Linked DNA regions of Homo sapiens: regions 2 and 3 are each reported to be linked to region 1. Evidence: microRNA targets listed by miRTarBase, many of them from high-throughput screens and not tested one by one. Region 1 holds a microRNA gene; each other region holds the end of a gene's coding sequence.

Region 1 (7,654 bases):
ACAGTAGAAGTTTTAATACATACTCAGTTCTAATGCCGTTAATTTTGTTTTCCTTCCGATTTCCTTAAGGGAAGACTCTGGTTGAGTCTTTCTCTGCTTTCCACATAGCCCCTCGAGGCACAGAGACAGAAGGGTCTGCTGTGGGAAGAGACCATGGAGCAGGTGCAGTGGCCCCTCTGAGGATAAAAACAACACGCCCAGAGGCTACAAAGCCAGCTAGTGACCCAGCCTTCACCGCTCCCAGACTCCATCTCCCCTGCTCCCCCGCTATACCACAGGACCTTTGCAAGTGCAAACTGCATTTGAGATAAGCTTCCCCAGACATGCTTTCATGAGGAGCTTATGGCGTTTTCTGTGCTCACAAGCAGGGTCTGGCACTGCCCTACCAAGGGAATGATCACTTGTAAGAAGAGGGAGGACAAAACTATCCCTGATGGCTCTTTCACATGTTTCTTTTAAATAAAAAGAGTGATGATCTTTCTAGGCAAGGACACAAGTTGCCCAGGCCACCCCCTTTCCCTTCAAACACCCATACCCACCTCATATGGCACATATAGTACCCCAAAATGCCAGATAAGCTGGGCCACCTCACACACTGCAATGACCAAGCCCATCTCCTCCATTGTCCTCATCCTTCCTTCGAAATCACCTGTCCCGGCCTCTTTCCAAACCCAAGTGGAACAGAGCCACTTGAACAGAGCTTCCTTCACAGAAATCCTCCGGAGGCAAAATCCTAGAGCACAAACTACATAGAAACTGAACAGTTAATGTACATTTCCTTTGGCTAAGTCACAGACACTAAATGTTGGCAGACAGAGTACATCTGAAGCAAATCAGGGCCATTTTCAGGGCAGAGACTTGCTTTTATTCTCTGAGCTCCAGCAACCCGCCTCTCTGACTTCTTCCTCCCATGGTGCTTTTCCACCCAGATAACTCGCCCCCAAAGCTGAGGACCCTCCCAAGGCCATGAAAGGGCCCTGGGTTCACCTCCACTGTCACAGAGTTTAAGAACACATGCCCTGTATAGCCTATTTTGTTTGCTTGTTTCTTTATTAAACTATAAGAGCATCATCCAATTTGAAATGCCCCTCCTCCAAAGAAAAAGCTGCGTGGCCCAATGTTAAAGGTCTACATCAGAAGTCACTGTTGCACATCATTATAATTAAGAAATGGCATATCACCTTCTTTGTAAGGTATAACATTTTCAATGTTGCAATATAAGCTGACCACCTCCTCTAAGGCGAGGACTCGGCGTCAGGGGCAGGGAGGTGGTGAGCAAAGAAAGGGCAAAAACAAGACCTTGATCACAGAAGCAAGAATCTGACATTGGATTATTTTTGAAACATACTACATACATAAGGAAAATGATGATGCTATAAATTAAAGTTGTGGTTTTCTACATTTTAAAAAAAGGCTAGCCAGCCGACCTTATCATCCCTGTCATTCCAATGGGAAAAAGCGTCATCAGCACAATTGTAGAAGCCTAGAACAATGTGTCCCTGTCAACTCAGTGAGGGTTTTCTTCTTTCAAAGATAAATCAAGATGCCATAACCTAGGAATAATATAACTACTTACACACAGAGAACAAAGTTGGCAATCACGATCTGAGTTAAGTTTAAGGTATGTTTGTCTTTCCATTTTACAAGAAGGTAAATGAACAGGAAAGTGAGCTGGAACAAGTAAACTGAGCCATAAGCCTACGTGTGCTTTTTTGTAGAAGCACAGTCTAAATACACACACGCAAGCCACTGCAAAATGACTTTCTAAGTTAAAAGTCAGAGAAATCAATGTTTGACTGACTATGGAGCATAAAAATTCTTCATTTGCTTTCATCAGCTGAAAAAAAAATGCTAGAAATAACTACGGAGAAATGGTAAAGAAAAAAATGTAATGTACACAGTTTTGCTGAAAACCATGAAGATACCAGCAGAAGAAAAAAGAAAATGAAGACGACAAATGTATTTCACACAAAGATGACCGGGGCTGTTTCTGCACAGCCTCCACCTGGAGCTGAATCACCGGCCAGAACAGGGATTAGGACAGGCCTCACTGGCCTCCCAGAGCTGTCAGACCTCAGCAGGGCGGGCGCATCCTTGGGTAGCCCAATCAAGGCTGAGCAGTATAGACCGTTTGCAAACTTGCGCAAACTGTGAAGTTATTTACATGCATTCAGGGAAAAGACTCCCCCAAACAGGGAAGCTTCTACCAAACAAATGCCTTAAAAATTATTTTATGAAAGAGATGTCTGTTATGTGTAAACAGACACTAATTGTTGCTGCACCTTGGGTAAGTGACAGGGCTCAGAGAACAGGAAGGAAGCCTGTGACTTAGCAGACAACAGGACAGTTCTTCCCTTTGACCTTCCACTGGTCCCAGATTATGACTCAGAGACTGTCTCCCACTCTTTACCCAAGGGGAGATCCCTGCACCTCCTCCTCTAACATCCTACATCTTTAAAATGCTCCTCTGAATCCCAGAACTACAGAAACCACAGCACTCGTGCTGGTGAGCAGATTCCTAATTGCAGAAGATGCATACAACTTGATGCTTTCAGATTAGAGTCTACCCATTCCTACCATGCATTTGTTCCTACACAATAGCATACGGGCATGTGTAGGAGGTCACCCCACATTCTTTATTAACTTAGAGAAATCACTATTTACACACACACACACACACACACACACACACAGAGAGAGAGAGAGAGAGAGAGAGAGAGATCCCTACCCACCATAGGAACGTGGCCTGAGGATCCAGAGGCAAATCTGCCATCAAGCGTGGTGAACAAACTAAAAACCCTACTTTCCCTTAAGCATCACCCCCATTTCTCTTTTGTCTCCCTTTCCCTCTCCAAATTCAATGTTCTCACACCACAAAGGGCCTCCAGGCACAGGAACAAAAACATATACGACTGATTCAAAAAGCAGACACATGTCCCTACCAGACACCTCCAGCTGAGTGTTCCAATTCTTTCCTTCTGAGTTGAGGATACTATTTGTTGGTGCAAAAGTAATTGCGGTAATAGAAGTTTCTGCAAAGTACTTCCAATGTGGAACCCACTTCAGTTAGAAAGTGGTGAGAGGTCTCTGTTTTAAGAGACCTAGGGTGAGAGGTCTCTGTTTTAAGGATCAATACTCTGTTTTAAGGTCTCTGTTTTAAGAGACCTAGGGTGAGAGGTCTCTGTTTTAAGGATCAATACTCTACATCTGCTTCCCAAAGGTCCAACATTTCTTGATAGCAAAGGTGGGGGGAGGGTTACAGAGCTTTTCATTTGGATTAGGAAGGGCAAAGCTCTGTGTCACCATTTTCCCTTTGCTCACGCTCCAACGCCTTCAGGATTTAGTCAGCCTGAAAGTTTCATAATTTAAGGTGGGTGGTTTTGTGAGCATGGGTTTCTGGGTTTGTTTGAAGGTGTTTTATCTGAGAGTGCTATGGGGGCACTTTCTATCCATGCCCCTAATATAGTCATGAACAAAAGTCAGGTTGGCACAGAGTGACTTTATTCTGCTCTGCAGGCCAGAAAGATTCAGGAGAGGACAAAAACAGAGACAGGTGTGCCCAGAGAATGCTGAAGTCCCACTTTTATGCCATGAATCCTTCCCAGGAGCCCAGAAAGAGAAGCTCTACTCAACTCCCTTGCCCGAGTCCCAGCCCCGAAGGAGGTCCAAGTCTCATGACCAATTACGAAGGGGCGCTGATGGAACCAGGGCGCTCTTGTGGATATTTAAACTACATTGCTGGCTCACAGAATGTCGTCACCAACCAGAAATAGTGCTATTTCAATCCGAAACCCAGGCTCTGAGCAATCCTCAAGTGGGTGAGAGAGGTAAGGAATGTCTAAGGATCAATTCTCCATGACTTGAGAAAAGGTTAGGACGGCAACAAAGTGGGGAAAGGCTTCACGTTCCACACAGGCTCTCTAGCTGCCCAGTTCTCTGTCCTACAGTCATGCAGGCACCTGCCTGATCATCTTGTGACCAGACACTGGCCCAGTTATTGGCCAGAGCACAATGTCCTCCCCAAACTATTCTAAAAAAAAATCCTATGAGTGAAAATGTACATGCAAACCTGGACTTTCTTCCCCCAATGCAACAACAACAACAAAAAAAGACAGTGGTTTTTCACTGTATTAGAGGCAACAGAGAAATCCCCTGTGTTTCCAGGTTCCTTAGAATACTTGACTGAAATAGGCTTATAGATTTTGATTCATCCACGTCTTCAAATAGGCAAAGGAGCACAAAGCAAGCACTGAGCTGGAAGGCACTTGCCACACCCGAGGCCTGGCCATTCGCTGCAGCACATGGCCTCTTTCAATGGGGCCATCTGTCCCAGAAAAATCTAGAGGTGTTTTCTTCTTTGTTTAATAAAAAAAAAAAATTAACTCCCTGGTTAACAATTAAACCACTGAGTAAAGACAATTTGCAATGTGGCTAATCATTCTGACTCTGCATTAGATGAGCCAAGGAAACCACACTGTATGTACCCTCAGGTTTTCCTCCACCTTGTTCTAAGTGTCCTGGCTTCAAACAGGTGCTGACCCCAAATGACTGGAACCAACAAAACCTGCACTGAGGTCAACTGGTGGGGAAACTGAATACTCATCTGTAGACCTAGGCAACTTGCTTTCCATGTCTGAGATTAACAAGGCTGTACTCGCTGAAGCCTAGGAGTGCACGTGATTTCTGGGGTAGCCACAGACCAAGCCCTAAAAGGGAGGGTGAGAGAGGCAGAGTCTGCAGGGGAGGGGCAGCAGCTGAAAGGCTGAGCGCTGGGACCATCCATAATTGGATTAGACAGCCGCAACCAACTGACTCTTTCAGCAGACCGAGCCCACATTGTGCTCCAGCTAGTGGTCACGTAGGTGTGCTTTGTTTTAAGGAAACCCAATACCTACATTCCTGATTTACAATACAGATGCTTTATTGGGGCACCTCACATGGTCAGACCCTCCTGCCTCTCTTTCCTTTACTGCTTGAGGTGGGTGGGGATCACTTCCTGAGCTCCAAGGAAAAATAATACAGGCTAGAGAATATTTGCATCAATAGCACAATCACAGCAGGCTAGACTGCTTTACCAACACTATCGAATTCAATCTTCAAAGTACTTCCAAAGGCATTCCATTTATTCCCAATGTACTGGTGAGGACTCTGGAAAAGTTCCACAAAACCTTTGGGGCTAAAGTCCTCTGAACGCTAAAGCCTGCGGCCCTGGGGCCAATTAACACACCTCCTATAAGTATTAAAATCTAAATTTTGCTACCCTTCCTTATGAACATTATTTTTAACTCTGGATTACCTGGGACTGAAATCATGAATGTTTTCTAGAGATTCTATTACTTGACATTCTCAAATACAGTGCACACACAACTACTTTCATATGCTACAAAGGGAAGAGGGAATTGTGACATCTGATAGAAGGATAAAGAAACTCAAGTCCAAAAGAACTGCAAGTATCTGACTGTGTACAATTAGTTCTTGGTACAAACTAGATATACAGTGTATTGTTTCCAAAAAGCATTCTGTATACAAGAAAAGTAGATTCAATTACCTAAATAACAAGATGACATTCTGATGATTTGGAGGTTAATTACTGTAAGGCACTAACCAATCAAGTCAAATTCCAGTTGCAAAATTGAATTTTAAAATTGTAATCATAAAATTACAAACTACTAGCAACTATTTCCCATGTTTAACAGCTTGCTCCCTTCTAAACACATACACATATATATATACACATGAACTTCTGTGTGTTCATATTCTTTCTGGTTTAATTCAAGTTGTCGAAAATCTAGACATGTTGTAAATACAGTCATCCCTCAGTATCCAAGGGGGATTGGTTCCAGGACTCCCACGGATACAAAATCCTTGGATGCTCAAGTCTCTGCAATAAAATGGCAGCGCTTGCATATAACGTATGCACATCGTCTCATAGACTTTCAGCCATCTCTAGCTTACAATACCCAATACAAATGCTGTATAAAAAGTTGTTATACTAGTTTTTAAATTTGTTGTCTTTATTGTTGTATTGTAATTTTTTTTTACTGTTTTTCCCCCCAAATATTCTTAATCTGTAGTTGAAGGAATCCGCAGATGTAGAACTGAAGGAGACAAAGGGCTGACTACCTGCAGTTTTACATAAGAGATTAGAATTACAATAACTCAGGTAAAGAATGTTCACAAACTGGACGCTAAACTAGGGCATATGGTCAAGTATGACTTAACCTAGACTAAATTGCTCAGCAGGAAAATGTGTATTTTGGCCAACTCTGACCACCTAGGTTGGTACACCTCATTCTGACATCAACCTAAGGGGTCAGAGTTGGCCAAAATAAAAATTCTACTAGCAGAAATTCTTTCTAGCAGTAAAAAGAAAAGGGAGATGCTCAGATATCCTGGACTCCCCAGAGGGGTAAGATTACCCCTAGGACTTCTCTGTTTACTGCCATGAGAAGAATATCAGCTTGCAGCACCATAATCCAGAGCTGAAAAAAGACTTTTTATACTTAAAAATAGGATTCAGGGGCCGGGCACGGTGGCTCACGCCTGTAATCCCAGCACTTTGAAACCAGCCTGGTCAACACGGTGAAACTCTGTCTCCACTAAAAATACAAAAATTACCCGGGTGTGGTTGCGGGTGCCTGCAATCCCAGCTACTTGGGAGGCTGAGGCAGGAGAATCGCTTGAACCCGGAAGCCAGAGGCTGCAGTGAGCTGAGACTGCGCCATTGCACTCTAGCCTGGGCAACAAAGGGAGACTCCATCTCAAAAAAAAAAAAAAAAAAAAAAAAAAAAAAAAAATTTCAGATGCCATAGTATTTGCAATAGACCAATCAAAAACTCTATGTGCATATAGCACATAAATAACTTCTAATCTAGCCTAGGAAGAAGGATAGCGTGGTACTATCTATAAACCCACTTTGTGACAGCAGCACTTTCTAGCAACAGCATCGGTATTCTCCACAAAATGTAGCAAGTGACACCTAATAAAAATAAAAGGAGTTGACATATCTTGAGCATGTATTGATAATTAGTAATAAACTAGCATAAACTAAAAAGTGAGTTCAATAAGTTGTATCTCTATATACTGGCAATGAGCAAAGAAATTAAATACTTAGGGTGTAACTCTACCAAAACATACACAGGACTACAAAAACTACAAAATGCTAATGAAGTAAATCAAAGAAAAACTAAATAAATGGAGGGACATGCCATGCTCATGGAATGTAGTACATTTACACCACAGAATACCATTCAGCAATAAAAAGAAACAAACTATTGATAAACACAGCAACCTGAATGAATCTATAAGGAATTATGCTGATGGAAAAACTTCAGTTCCAAAAGGTTACATACTATGAGTCTATTTACAGAACATTATTAAATGATAAAATTTTATATAGAGAGAACAGGTTAGTTTGTAACCAGGCATGAAGGAGAGAGGAGAGATAGAAGGGAAGTAGGTGTACCTTTGTGGTGATGACATATATCCTTACTATATTAACGTCAATATCCTAGCTGTGATACTGTACTAGTTTCACAAAATGTTACTATTGGAGGAAAATGGTGCATGGAATTACTCTTTATTATTTCTTGAAACTGCATGTGAATCTACAAGTATTTCAAAATAATTTTTTTAATGGGGGCAGGGGGAGGTC
Region 2 (7,654 bases), not on the chromosome of region 1:
AGTCTCACTCCATCACCCAAGCTGGAGTGCAGTGGTGCAATCTCAGCTCACTGCAACCTCCGCCTCCTGGGTTCAAGAGATTGTCATCTCATGCCTCAGCCTCCCAAGTAGCTGTAAGTACAGGCACGTGCCACCATACCTAATTTTTATATTTTTAGTAGAGACAGTTTTGCCATGTTGGCCAGGCTGGTCTCGAACTCCTGACCTCATGTGATCCACCTGCCTTGGCCTCCCAAAGTGTTGGGATTACAGGCATAAGCCACCACACCCAGCCAGAACTATTACTTCTTTTATCTCTGTAGAAACTGCACTGGATAACTTTTTTCCTCTTTTTTGGCGACAGTCTTACTCTGTCACCCAGGCTGGAGTGCAGTGGCGCGATCTCGGCTCACAGCAACCTCTGCCTTCCAGGTTCAAGGAAATCTCATGCCTCAACATCCCGAGTAGCTGGGATTACAGGTGTGCACCACCATGCCCGGCTAATTTTTGTATTTTTAGTAGAGAGGGGGTTTTACCATGTTGGCCAGGCTTGTTTCAAACTCCTGACCTCTAGTGATCCACCCACCTCAGCCTCCCAAAGTGCTGGGATTACAGGTGTTAGCCACCATGCACAGCCGAGAACTTTCTTTTATTTGGACTCCTGATTTTAGAATACCATGGTTTCTTTTAAAAAAAAAAAAAAGTACGATTATTAACACTGATTAATAACACATGAACCAAACCCACTTAATATCATTATTAAAAACAGGCTGGGCACAGTGGCTTATGCCTGTAATCCCAGCACCTTCGGAGGCTGTGATGGGAGGATTGCTTGGGCCCAGGAGTTTGAGACCAGTCTAGGCAACATAGTGAGAGCTCTGTCTCTACAAAAAATACAAAAATTAGCCAGGTGTGGTGGTGAGCACTTGCAGACCAGCTACTTGGGAGGCTGAAGTGGGAGGACTGCTTGAGCCAAGGAGGTCCAGGCTGTAGTGAGTTGAGATTGTGCCATTGCACTCTAGCCTGGGCTCAAAACAAACCCCAAAAAACAAAACCAAACATCAATAGAACTACATAGGGACAACAGCAAATACAAATCTTTAAACACTTCATGATGTGGCCGGAATGAGTACAAGTATGCAATTCAATGATTCCAACATTTGATGGTGACTGTGAATTATTACATATTTATTACACATAAATGAGTTTAAATTTTATTTCCAAACTGCATGCAGGGACTTTATTATTACTATGAATTTTTTTTTGAGAGTTTCACTCGTTGCCCAGGCTGAAGTGCAATGGCGCAATCTCGGCTCACTGCAACCTCTACCTCCTGGGATCAAGTGATTCTCATCTCAGCCTCCTGAGTAGCTGGGATTACAGGTACCCACCACCACGCCCGGCTAATTTTTGGTATTTTTAGTAGAGACGGGGTTTCACCATGTTGGCCAGGCTGGTCTCAAACTCCTGACCTTGTGATTCGCCCACCTTGGCCTCCCAAAGTGCTGGGATTACAGGCGTGAGCCACCATGCCTGGCCAAAACCTTTGATTTTTAAAAAGGCGTTTCTTGAAGTACCTTATTAAACATTTGATTTGAAGGAAACTGTGCATGTCTAACATACTTGCCTTTTACAGAAAGCTGGCTAGCCAAAAATGTATCATCAACTATCGATTTTATTTTCAGAAGTGGACTGTCTCTTAAATGAGACAGCATAAAGTATGGACTTGTAGAAGCTGAACGAGTAAATCATGAGTGTAACTGATAACATGTAAGTCCATTCTTCGTATAAACTGCTAGAGAGTGTTTCAGACCATCACTGATGTCTGTGATAAAGAGCACCAAAGCATCACAGTCCAACTTTTTTTTTAAGCGCCAAGTTCAAACAAGTGACCAATAATAATGGTTGGTCCTTGAAGGTCTTTTACCAGAGGCCTTTTCTAATCACTTCGTAACACTTCTGAGATGTACATGGCTCCTGAAACTTGAAAACAAAGCCACAAAATGAACATTAACATTTCTTTAGGGGAAAATGCTATCTAATTTTCCCCTCGTTTGAATTAACCAAAAAAAAAAAAAAAGCCTATTTCTTTTACAAATCTTCTGAATAACGGGTTTTAAGAGCAGGCCAGGCGCGGTGGCTCACGCCTGTAATCACAGCACTTTGGGAAGCTGAGGTGGGCGGATCACGAGGTGAGGAGTTCGAGACCAGCCTGCCAGCCTGGCCAACATGATGAAGCCCTGTCTATATTAAAAATACAAAAAAAATCAGCCTGGTATGGTGGTGGTGCCTGTAATCCCAGCTACTCGGGAGGCTGAGGCAGGAGAATCGCTTGAACCCAGGAGGCGGAGGTTGCAGTGAGCCGAAATCACACCACTGCACTCCAGCCTGAGCGACAAGAGCAAGACTCTGTCTTAAGAAAAAAAAGAGCAAAGGACACACCACATCTGCATAAATCCAAGTGTGTTAAGGAACATAATCATGTTGATTGTATCCTGATTCTAGCAGGTGAAGGACTAAGCACTCAACTTGTATTTGGAGGAGAAGCAAGTGTCATGATGGAGCATGTCTTATATGGCAATTCAAAACAGTATGATTCTGATGCGAGTGAGAACTAAATGTTGGACAGGCTTTTTATACAAATCCCACCTGCATGATCCAGAACAATATTCTTACAGATTCAATGCAGACTCCACCAATGGGTTAGCTAGACATCAACAGGCTCACTTTCTTTTTTTCTTTTTTTTTTTTTGAGACAAGAGTTTCACTCTGTCTTGCAGGCTGGAGTGCAATGGTATGATCTCAGCTCACTGCAACCTCTGCCTCCTGGGTTCAAGCAATTCTCCTGCCTCAACCTCCCAAGTAGCTGGGATTGCAGGCGTCCACCCAGCACTCCTGGCTAATTTCTGTATTTTTAGTAGAGATGGAGTTTCACCATGTTGACCAGTCTGGTCTTGAACTCCTGACCTCAGGTAATCCACCCGCCTGGGCCTCCTAAAGTGCTGGGATTACAGGTGTGAGCCACCGCGCCTGGCCCATTTTCTTAATGTAAGTCCACAATATGTCATTAGGGGAGAATGACTTTGGCAAACTCATATGCTTCAAAGGCAGAAAGACATGTACTAAGAAGGCAGTTAGAGCTGGAAAATTCTTGACATAATTACAACTTTAGCAAGAGAATAAAAATAGATTTTAAAAGTGTGTGCATGTGGGGAGGTGACAGAATATCTTTATATGTACTTTAAGAAGCTGACGCGTTATCCAGACACAAAAGATAACATTCTCATCAAAACAGGCCAAGATGAAACACCAGGGGCACTCTTCACAGAAATTAAGTGGATGCTTCTGGCGCCAAATGTCTTTGCCTGGTTCTTCCTGGCATTTCTGCTTGACTCCTTCCCCCTGTATCATTCTCAAATCCCCAGCCTTTCCACTGGGCAAAGCCACTCTCTTCTCCCTCAGGCTCTGAAGAGATAACACAAATGTATGGACACTTTTTGTCCTTCAATTAAAAAACCTGCTGGAAGCTCCAGTGATGTTAAGAATTAACTGGTAGTTCTTTATCTTAGCTAGGCTTATGTATTCCAAATTTTGCCTGTTTTCTTGGAATTATATGAATTTCCTTATTAAACATTTGATTTGAAGGAAACTGTGCATGTCTATTAATTACCCATGAGGTACATGTGTATTTCTGAAATTTCTCCTTCAGTCTCACCTGAGTTTAATTTTTGCCTAAGATGTTTAGAGTTCCTGAGGTGCTTCTCTAGGCTAAAATTTAAAGATTTTTTTTTAAAAAAGCAAATAAAAGTAAATGAATGGCTAAAAGATAAGGTTAAATTTTCTAGGCTGGGCATGGTGGCTCACACCTATAATACTAACACTTTGAGAGGCTGAGGCGGGAGGATCACTTGAACCCAAAAGTTCGAGACCAGCCTGGGTAACATAGTGAGACCTCATCTCTACAAAAAAAATTTTTAAAACAGAATTAGCCGAGTATGGTGGCACATGCCTGTAGTCCCAGCTAATCAAGAGGCTGAGGTGGAATGATTGCTTGAGCCTGGGAGGCAGAGGCTGCAGTGAGCTGAGATCATGCTGCTGCACTCCAGCCTGGGTGAAAGAGGGAGACCCTGTCTCAAAAAAAAATTTCCTTAAGTTTCTTTTTTTTGGTGGGGGTAGGAATGCAGTAGAGAAACAAAAACACTGCACAAAGGGTGCAGTGTTCTACTATTCATCTAAATAATGGAGAACTGGCATTTTACAATTAAGATATAAAAAATATTCATACTTTCAGAATTTCCAAGTCAGAGGTGGCTTACAACAGCTTTCATTAGAAAAGGGTGAGACGCCCAAATAAAATGCTCCCTGGTGGAACAAAGTCCCCTTTAAACCTTTACCAAGCTCTTTCTCAGAAGCTCACAAAACTTAAGACAATGTGAACATGATGAGAAAGCAAAGCTCTCCAACATAAGGCTGAAAATGACAATAAAAGACTGCAATAAAAGACTAGTGGGATGAACATGAATGCTTGTCAGTGACAAACACATTATGCCTACAAAGAATAAATACTGCACTTCTCTTTAGGTCTATTTACAGACAGGACCCCATGACCTTTCAGGCATAAACCTCCACTGGCAGAAGTAAGAATTTAATCACAAAACTTCTATGGTAAATTATAAAAAATAAGAAATTTGGATTTAGGCCTTCTGCCATTTCCAATACAAGTAGCTTTGAGTATTCTTGGTTGACAAGGGAATGTTTGCATTTCTAATGTTAACAAAGAAAATATCCACCACTGGCTTCTTAACCAGACGGAAGCGGGCAGGTTTCTGGATAGAGGCTTAAGGCAAATCAAACAGGTTCACAACTAAGCAGCCTATTAGGGATTCCAGGCATGGCTTTGCTTTCTGAGGGACAGCTCCATATCATCTCTAGCCAGGTTTTCCACATTGCTACCAAACTGGGGACACGTTTCTGTATCAGGCTTTTGAAAGAACTTTAAGTTATATACATATACCATCAAAGCATATACTGGTGATGCTTGATATTTAAAGGAATCCTACAGTGAATCATTTATTTCCTTTGAAAATAAGGTTTTCAAAAATTGGCTACAACTCTGATCGCATGAATGAGATTCAAAGATTTCTCACATAAAAGAAAGATCTCAACCTCCTTCTACTGTGAACTTGCTTTCCAAGACTAAAAACTGGTATCTCCTCTTCAGTCTCCTTACACATCTGAAATCGTTCCTGCAATATGAGAGGCACTTTTATTAGGTGTAGCATCTATTAAAAACTCTAAAGCCAGGGTAGAATTTGCTGAACAAAGTAATAGCACTAGCCTAATAGGCATTATTTATAAGGACTTTTTCCCCTTTAATATAAAAGTATAACTACAGCAGTTCAATGTACAAATACAAAAAAAGTTCTCATACTAAAAAAAAAAAAGTACCATAATACTGTACATACAAAAACTGTTCAACAAGAATGATTTAAATATGTCTGTTCTTCTCCAGATCTGGAAGACACAAATGTAAAGTTCTGCAACTGTATTATTGCTAAGAACATGTGCCTGGGAACACTGTGTTTCCCTTTCTCTCCCTCAGCCCAGCCCCGCCTCCAGAGTCCCCTGAGCTTGGATCATGAGCCAACAGCATCCCTGAAGATAACCAGAGCCAAATGTTTACTCAATGGAAGTCATTATTCAGTGAGCTGCTGCTTACCATAAACTATGAAAAGCACAGGTTTTAAGCCCGCCAGGATTAAATCCAGACGGAGGTCTTCCCATCCCCTGATTTGCTACTGGCAGTGCTTTTGTTGGACCCAGCTTTGGACCCCACTTTGGCCTTCTTCTCCCGGGGACCATGAGGGTTGTTTTGGTGACTGTAGGCCTGAACTGCCAGATCCAAGCGTTCCTGAGCCATCCTGATCTCCCGCTGCAGAGCCTCCAGGTCAGCTGGGAGGTTCTCCTCATGGCTGCCATACTGCTGTTCCTGGGCTGTGTTGGCCTTGTTTTGCTTGTAGGCGATCTTAGCATTGGACAGTTCGGTGTACTGGATTTGATCTGGTTTGACAGCAATGTTATAGCCAGGGGGAGCAGATGGTGTATTCCAAGTGAAAGGATAATTATAAGCACCCGGATCCTCAAGTTCCCTCCTTTTACTGTTTAGTGAGTCTCGAATGGTCCCAAACCCTAAATGAAGCATCTCCCAAATGTTAAGCAAGAGGCAAAGGCCTGTAACACCATACATTATCAGAAGGAAGATGGTCTTTTCAGTGGGTCTAGAAATAAAGCAGTCTATCTTATGAGGACAAGGAAGTCTGCTGCACACATAAAACGGGTGGACTTGGAAGCCATACAGAAAATACTGCCCTATCAGAAAACCCACCTCAAACACGGTCCTTGCCAGCAACTGCAGCACATAGATTTTCATGAGCCCATCTTCCCGAATCCGTCGTCGGCCATCATGCTTAGGTTTGGGTTGGCTCTGCTCTTTATTTTCCTTATCACTTTCTAACTCCATCTCTGGATACATCATAGGATCCTCTTCGTTGTCCTCCTCCGTTTCTTCCAGAGCCCGGTGTTGTTTCCAGCGCATTGCATAGGGCTTGCTCCGAGCTGCCTTCTTGTCTGCTTCACCGTGCTCCATTTTGGCAATCTTGTGGATAGCATAGCCCAGGTACATCACAGAGGGAGTTGCCACCAGGATGATCTGGAACACCCAGAAGCGTACATGGGAGAGAGGTGCAAACGCATCATAACAGACATTCTCACAGCCCGGCTGTTCTGTGTTGCACACAAATTTGCTTTGCTCATCGTAATAGATGGATTCTCCTCCTACAGCTGTAAGGACGATCCGGAAGACAATCAGAACAGTGAGCCAGATCTTCCCCACAAATGTGGAATGGTTGTGAATCTCCTCTAGCAGGCGAGTCAGGAAGCTCCAACTCATGGTGATTGAATTGGTATGCCCTGATAAAAGTGGAAAAATACCAAAATAAAATCAACAAATATTAAATCTTAATTTAATTACTAATTATGATATCTCTAGGAACTACTGCTTTGAATACTTGAAATCTAACCTCAAGGTTCACAGTGGAACAAATGTTAGAATAAACAGCATCTCAGTTGGGTAGGGTGGCTCACGCCTGTAATCCCAGCACTTTGGGAGGCCAAGGCGGGCAGATTAGTTGAGGTCAGGAGTTAAAGACCAGCCTGGTCAACATGGTGAAACTCCGTCTCTACAAAAATACAAAAATTACCCGGGCACGGTGGTGTGCACCTGTAATCCCAGCAGCTCAGGAGGCTGAGACAGGAGAATTGCTTGAACAGAGCAAGACTCCATCTCAAAAAAAAAGAATAAACAGCATCTCACTCTCTACTATCTTCAAGAAGGTCAATTCACCTCAGTCAACACCTGTTGGCCCCACAAGGTCCCAGAAAGTATGGATTGCTTTCATATCTCCTCTGGTTTAAAAGGTAAACTTGTAGCTACTATTTACTGAGATATTTCTCAGACCTTGGTTCTTCTGTTTGTTTTTTTTTTTTTTTTTTGAGACAGTTTCCCTCTTTCGCTCAGGCTGCAGTGCAGTGGCGTGATCTTGGCTCACTGCAACCTCCGCCTCCCAGGTTCAAGTGATTCTTGTGCCTCAGCCTCCCGAGTATCTGGGATTACAGT
Region 3 (7,654 bases), not on the chromosome of region 1:
GCATGCCACAACACCCAGCTAATTTTTGTATCTTTAGTAGAGGCGGGATTTCGCCATGTGGGCCATGCTGTTCTCAAATGCCTGGCCTCAAGCCTTGGCCTCCCAAAGTGTTGGAATTACAGGCATGAGCCACTGTGCCTGGCCTGTAGTGTTCTTATTATATTCAGGGAAAAAGGCCCTTTGTGATAAAGATTGCAATTTTTTTTTTCTCTGTATGTCATTTGTCTTTTGATTTTATTTATGGTGGTTTTTGTCAAGCAGACATTTTTTATTTCTGTTTAATTTGTCAATCTTTTATAGCTTTCTGCTTTCAGATAGTTTAAAAAGGTACTCTTCCCAGCTGGGTGCGGTGGCTCACGCCTGTAATCCCAGCACTTTGGGAGGCCAAGGCGGGCAGATCACCTGAGGTGAGGAGTTTGAGACCAGCCTGGCCAACATGGCAAAACCCCATCTCTACCAAAATACAAAATTTAATCAGGCACGGTGGTGTGTGCCTGTAGTCCCAGCTACTTGGGAGGCTGAGATAAGAGAATTGCTTGAACCCGGGAGGTGGAGGTTGCAGTGGGCTGAGATCATGCCATTGCATTCCAGCCTGGCTTTGTCTTAAAATAAATAAATAAATAAAAAGGTACCCTTCCCCACCTACCTCCGTCCAGAATTATAAAAGTGTTTTTCCATGGCATTTTTATAGTAGAGTTTTTTAAAAAATACTTTTACATTTAAATCTTTTGATCCATCTAGAATTTGTTTTGGTAAGGTATTGGTCTGACTTTTTTCCCCCTGAGATGGTTATATAGTTGTCCAACATCATTTATTTAATAATACAATAACTGTTTTTGATATGGCACTTTTATCAGATGCTAAATTTCTATATATATTGGGGTTATTTCTAGTCTTCTGTTTCATTGATATATCTGTCATTCGTGTGCCAATACCATGCTGTCTTAATTTGTTTATAGATTTGTAAGTATGCTAATTTCTGATAAGGTATCTTTGATATGTTTTCTTTAGGTGCTGTTTTGTCATGGGTCTGTCTATTATGCAAATAATTAAAGTATTTTTACTTTATTTAGTGACAGATTTAACCATATTATATTTTTCTTTATTAAAATTTTTCATGGAAATTAGGATGAAGTAATGGATTATGGGTACACTGTAATTTACCTAATTATATCTAGTGTGGTATATTTAGTTGCTTCCTATTTTATTATTATAACTAATGCTACAAAGGTTATCTTAGTCATAAAACTCCTACTATGTTTAGGATTATTTACTTAATGTAACAGCATAGAAGTGAAATTTTTGGGTCAGTGATTGTGAACATATTTAAAGCTCAATATTTATTGCCACGTTGCTTTTCAAACAGATCATATTGGTTTAGACTGCTATATATACACACACATATATATATAAATGTTGTATTACAGTTTTATTTTTACTTTATTTTTATTACCTTTTTAGGTTTCTTGTGATCAGCCCTTACTGAAAGAAGGATATAAAAGTGCCCAAAAGCGGGCCCCTCAAGGGGAGGCAACCACAGTCTCTGAATATTTCTTCAATGATATCTTCATTGAAGTGGATGAAACAGAATAAAACAATCTTTTCTCTTTTTCTTTTTTAAATTAGGTCTAGGATTTCCAGAGTCAATTACATCAACAAAACAGTATTTAGAGCAAAATATCACTGTCTTATTTTTCTTTAGGTTGATTTTGAATACTTAATGAGCTTGATTTGAAGCTTTTATAATCAGTGGAAAACATTTCTGAGGTTCCTTTCATTCTGACTGATTCAGCATTTTGCAAATAGCAAGCAATTAAGACTGCTTTCTCAGACAGAAATAACAACTCTTGTTTACATTTTGACTCTTCCTGTGCTAAGCACACATGGACATTTGGGAATGTTGTGGATATATGTCTCTGTATGAATTGCAGTGCAGACAGATTTGGGGGTTAATTGTATCATATTTAACATTTAGCAACTTCTTTTGTGAAGATTTTTTATTTTTAGGGGGAGATGATGAAGGATGAAGGCTTTTTCATTTGCTTCTAAGTACAGTCATGTATCACATAATGAAGTTTAAGTCAATGATGGACCACATATATTACAGTGGTCCCATGCAATTAAAATGGAGATAAATTCCTATCAACTAGTGACATTATAGCCATCATAACACAGTGCATTGCTTTTTTATGTTTAGATATGTTTAGATACACAAATACTTACTATTGTGTTACAACTGCCTACAGTATTCAGCATAGTAACACATTGTAGAGGTTTGTAGCCGAGGAGCAATAGGCTATACCACATAGCCTCAGTCTGTACGGTGTGTAGCAGCCTGTACCATCTCAGTGTTTGTAAGTACACTCTGCGTTGTTTCACACAAGATCACCTAACAAGGCAATTCTTAGAACATGTAGTTAAGGGACACGTGACTATATGTGAAAACAAATTGTCAAACTTCACTTTAGTATGGCAAATGTTAAAGAACTTTTCTATTATCAGCTGTTTGTCTGACTGAAAAATACATATTTTTCTAATTCATGGTGATGTAACATTAGTCCTAATTGAAAAACTAGTATTTAAACATAATTATTTATAAAGATGACACATCAAAGGGCTTATTTATTTTTAAATTTTTTATTTAAAAGGATATTCAGTTTTAGCTATTTTTACCCCTCAGATTGTAGATAAAGAAGGCATTAAATTTATGTTTGTCTCCTTTTTCTGTTTAATTTTAAAGATATTTAAAATGATATAACTAAAAATGTTTAGCTGGTGTATATGTTTTGAATACCTTTTTCCCCTCAGTTTAGTATATTGACTTTGTACTGTAAATTTTTCTGCTTTTCTTGGATAATCTCAGGATTTTCATGAGGATAGGGGGAACTCAACTTTATTTATGAGACAAAATTTCCATACAAAGCTCAATCTCCTTTATACACCCACAGACATAATATTAGTTTTTAAAAAGCCAATTTCTTCATAGTTTTTTCCCATTAAATTCTCAAGGAACACTTGGATCTTTAAGCACGGAACATAATCATGATGTTAAAAACAGAGAAAATAAGGCTTTATAAAGTTAATGATTATCATCAGTATGAATTTAAGGTTTGTTTTAATTTCAAGATTTGATTTTTTATACGTGTAATTCTATTATCTACCCAAGCAGATCTGTAGTGGTTCCAATTAGACTTCTCAAACAGCAAATTTATCCTGATTTTATTTGAAAAGCCTCTTGGATTGATAGTATAGTAGCTCAGGCATTGGAAACTTTCTGCAAACTGTTTTGGGTTTGCAGGCCAGATGGTCTCTGTGGCAGCTACTCAGCTCTGCAATTTCAGTGTGAAAGAAGCCATAGACAGTACTTGAATGAAGGACTGTGGCTGGATTGGCCTTTTAGTTTGACCCCCTACATTAGGCCCCAAATTTTCTTACCCTGAGGTGCTGATATCTGTATGGATGAGTTATTTGTCACTAAAGTTATGAGTTGTGCCTAAAAGTTAAAACTGTTGACTGTATTATGTAATGATCAGTATTTCAGTTGGGAAGATATTTTAGAGTCTAGATAATTATGTTTGTATATTGAAAAAATGGTGGCCAGTTTTTAAGTTCCTTAATAGAAGAGAATTATGTCTCAGCACATATAACAGTAATGCTAATTTATTGAAACTACTGCTGTTAGAGCACTTCTTATTCATTGTCTTTTAGTGAAATTTATGGCGTAACACTTTGTCAGAGAGGAGGCTATATAATTCGGAGCGGAAATTGTCTATAAGTAGGCATTTATTTCATGATTGATATGTCACAGAAATCATGGTAGTAAATCACATTGCTATTTGAATACCCTGTTTTTGTAAGTTTTTAAAACTCATATTCTGAAAAGATTTCATTCTCTTAGTGTTAGCTTGGGAGTTAGATTGCCATGATTAAACTATTATTTATCCTTGTGTAATATTAGTTTTTAACTTTAACATCTGTTTCTTTTTAATCTATAATGAGCTAGTTTTATGGAAAATGGAATTTCTTACTATATAAAGAATACAGAGACTCATTGTATTAGAGAATCAAGTCAGCCAGCTAAAGTATCCTACTGTTAAATCCTTAAACCTAATTTTGGAAAAGAGAAAGTTAATCAATGTATTTACCTTACATGTTGGAAAGAACTATGTTAGGTCTGATTCATGTGAAGAAGATGTTGCAAAGGATTTATTTCACAAATTTTAAAGGAGATATGAGTAAAAGTTTTTATCTTTTCTTGACTTTTTCTCCTGAACACTTATGTCTTAGCAAGTGGTCAACATGAGGATTTGAACGCCTAATTGTTGGTAAATGGTTGAGGCATGACAAAAATATTAATATCCACTGTTTACCATCATGTTATTTGAAACAAAAGTGACCATGTATACTATCTTGCTTGAAGAAGTCTTTGACAGAAAAAGCAATATCATGTCATTTATAAATTTTCTTGTTCTAAAGAAAGCAGTTATATATATATATAAATTATGTAAATAAAAGTTATTTTATATCATTTCTGTTGTGTCCTTTTAAGATGACTAAATAAAGAATTGGCTGGGTATCGTGGCTTACACCTGTAATCCCAGCACTTTCGGAGGCCGAGGTGGGAGGATTGCTTGAGCCCAGGAGTTCAAGACCAGCCTGGGCAACATAATGAGACCTCATCTCTACAAAAAAATTAAAAATCAGCCAACTGTGGTGGTGTGTGCTTTTGGTCCCAGTTACTCAGGAGGCTGGGATGAGAGGTTCGCTTGAGCCCAGGAGGAGGTTGAGGCTGCAGTGAGCTGTGATTGCCCCACCACACTCCAGCCTGGATGACAGAAGAAGACCCTGTCTTTGTGGGGAGGAGACAAATTTTTGACAGGTGTGCATGTCGTTATTTCAAAGCTGTAGGAGTCTGCAATGTGATTGTCCTAATAGTATTTGGAAGAGACTCCACACAGCATCTCTGTTTGCTGCAGCATCGCATCCTGAATCTGCTGGAGAGCCCTGTCTTACATTGGGTTTCACTAAAAATCGGCAGTCTTACGGGCTACCCAGTAAGTAGGTTGGGGTAGTATTCCCAAATATATTTTATCTCAAACTCAAAGGGCGACTTCAAACATTGTTGCTTCTGTCTTCATGGTGACCAGTGCAAGGTGCAGAATCTTGTCTCCCTCTCCCCACTGCCTTTGTTTAAGAGATGGGGTTTCGCTTTGTTGCCCAGGCTGGAGTGTGGTGGCGTGATCATAGCTCACTGCAGCCTCGAACTTCTGGGTGCGAGCAATCCTCCCAGGTAGGTGAGCCGTCATGCCTGGGTAGCTTGTTTCTTCCCTTCAAAAATAGATCCCATGTCCTCAGACCACTAGACCCTTAGGAGATTCACCTATGTGGCAGGCTCCTGAACTTTAACAGTATTTACCTCCCAACCTCTTATATATGTATGTCTTCCTAAGACATCTAGCTGCTTGCTAATTCGTGCTTTCCAGCTCCAGTTAGCATAATGTTATACATGTCACATTTCATTTTTTTGTCAAAAATCAAGAAAATAAAAGTCTCTCCAGACTATATAATGAAAGAAAATGAGGGTATTCATATCACTCTGAAGTAAGACAGTAAAATCAGTTGTCCCTGCCACAATAATTCAAGTTCTTTTAATTTTTCTTACTGGAATGGAAAATGTTGCATTTTTTTCATGGCACTAGCTTTATTCCAGGTATTAGGAGTTGTGTTGATTTGGTCTAATAAAGGTACCAATCGCCAACTGCAGCTGTGATTGACATCATTTGTTAAATCTGTGATAACTTATTGTCATTCCCCAAGACCAGTGGTTCCCAAACTTTATTGCACATCAGACTCACCTGGGAAGCTTTAAAAAGTTTCTGTGTCCAAGTGGTATCCCTTATTGTTAAATCAGTGTCTGGGTGCAGTGGCTCATGCCTGTAATCCCAGCATTTTGGGAGGCTGAGGCGAGACATAGCGAGACCTTATCTCTACAAACAAAACAAAGCAAAAACTAGCAGAACATGGTGGTGTGTGCCTGTGGTCCCAGCTACTTGAGAGGCTGAGGCAGGAAGATTGCTTGAGCCCAGGAGTTCAGGGTTGCAGTGAGGTATGATCGTGCCAGCCTGGGTCACAGAGTGAGACCCTGTTGCTAAAAAACATTAAAAAATAATAGGGCCAGGCACAGTGGCTCACGCCTGTAATCCTAGCACTTTGGGAGGCCGAGATGGGAGGATCGCTTGAGCCCAGGAGTTTGAGACTAGCCTGGGCAACATGGCAAAACCCCTTGTCTACTAAAATGCAAAAATTAGCCAGGTGTGCTAGCACGCGCCTGTGGTCCCAGCTACTGGAGAGGCTGAGGTGGGAGGATCACTTGAGCCCAGAGGTGGAGGTTGCAGTACGCTGATATTGTGCCACTGTACTCCAGCGTGGGTGAAAGAGGGAGACCCTGTCTCAAAATAATTAGAAAACACACACACTCGCAGTGCCTGGGGGTGGGCGTCAGACATCTCCATTTAAAAAAAAAATCTGCAGGTGATCCTAAGGTGTAACACCAACACCAACACACAAAACAAAAAAATGTGAAACATTGTTCATTCGGACCTGTCTGACTTGAACAGCTGGCCAAGCTGGTGAATCAAATGGAAATGTAGTAGGAATCAACAGATCCCACTCACTATGTGGGTCAGAGAATGGGGGTGGTTTAAACCTTCTACTTGGCCTTTCCTTAATGCCTTATCTCATGGGTTAAGGAAACTGTGTGATGATTCTGCTATATCCTACTTCTGTGTATTCTGGGACTGAGGAAATAATTACAGGATGGGCTCCTGTGAGAAGTCAGACCAAGAATCCATCTTTCACGCAACCTCCATTAGCCTTCACTCTGAAAACTGGATCACAGAGGCTTTTAAGGTCTCTGGAAATCAGTATAATTTCAGAGTCACTATCTTAATAACCGTGAAATAGCTGAGTATTTTTGTTTCCCCAGTGCAAAGACCCTGATGAATAACCATAGTTCTCTCTGCAGAAGGCTTGGGGGAAGATTTATGGTATACCCATGAAGCCACAATTACAAAATCCTTCCTCAGAGGCTCCCATCTGCCCCCTCAGTCAAGGGACTTTGGGTCTATAACCTGATTTATTTAGTCTGGAAACTGGATATGAGGCTCTCTCCACTATGGAGACTTGAGTTTGGTTCTTGCACAACAGACCTAGAATTGTTTTGTCTATAGGTGTCATGCAACACTTTAGAAGGCTGTCAGTCTAACAGGAACCTTGGGATCAATTAGCCATCATCACAGATCCCCACATGTAAAAATACACTATGTCAATCCTTTGCTATGGCTTATTACAGTAATTGTGCCTACCTGGTCTAAAACAGTTCGGCATTGCTGCCTGGCTTCTTCCAGTATTCCCAATGAGGTCAAGGGGCCTAATTCCTTGGCAGTACCTCTCACCATCATCTCCAGTCTGCAAAGGACAACCATCATAGTGGCTGCATCAGCTCTTTAAAGAGGCTGATGCTTCTGTTACCAAGACTTTAAAGAAAAGAGTGTCCTCCAGGCCCTCTTGGGAGTTATGGTTAGGGGGTGTCTGAATAAGATGCACATAAATACAGCCAGTCCCCCTTTATCAGCAGGTTCCATATCCTGAGATT

Evidence for each region. The annotated mature microRNA hsa-miR-4714-3p reads CCAACCUAGGUGGUCAGAGUUG and lies in region 1 at 6,262-6,283, opposite strand. An mRNA with a match to its seed (bases 2 to 7 or 8) in the 3' UTR can be bound and repressed. Matches are read on the target gene's strand: a 7mer-m8 pairs with bases 2 to 8, a 7mer-A1 pairs with bases 2 to 7 and ends in A, and an 8mer does both.
Region 2: the mRNA of GJC1 is a reported target of hsa-miR-4714-3p. Seed matches in the 3' UTR shown: 7mer-A1 at 5,141-5,147 and 7mer-A1 at 2,830-2,836.
Region 3: the mRNA of BDP1 is a reported target of hsa-miR-4714-3p. Seed matches in the 3' UTR shown: 8mer at 1,700-1,707.

The regions. Positions count from the first base shown.
Region 1 is chr15:98,783,102-98,790,755 of GRCh38, reverse strand. MIR4714 (microRNA 4714) reads right to left here and starts at 6,330; the gene lies at 6,254-6,330. All of the region lies in intron 2 of IGF1R (insulin like growth factor 1 receptor), which reads right to left. It overlaps LOC124903560 (a long non-coding RNA gene), which reads left to right and starts at 6,803. Exons shown (of 2, transcript XR_007064772.1): 1 at 6,803-7,654.
Region 2 is chr17:44,798,890-44,806,543 of GRCh38, forward strand. It overlaps GJC1 (gap junction protein gamma 1), which reads right to left. Exons shown (of 3, transcript NM_005497.4): 3 at 1-6,948. The coding sequence starts at 6,928. The coding sequence ends at 5,738. Among named protein-coding and RNA genes, the nearest start is that of GJC1, 28 kb to the right of the region's middle.
Region 3 is chr5:71,563,293-71,570,946 of GRCh38, forward strand. It overlaps BDP1 (BDP1 general transcription factor IIIB subunit), which reads left to right. Exons shown (of 39, transcript NM_018429.3): 39 at 1,462-4,528. The coding sequence ends at 1,593. Among named protein-coding and RNA genes, the nearest start is that of MCCC2, 20 kb to the right of the region's middle.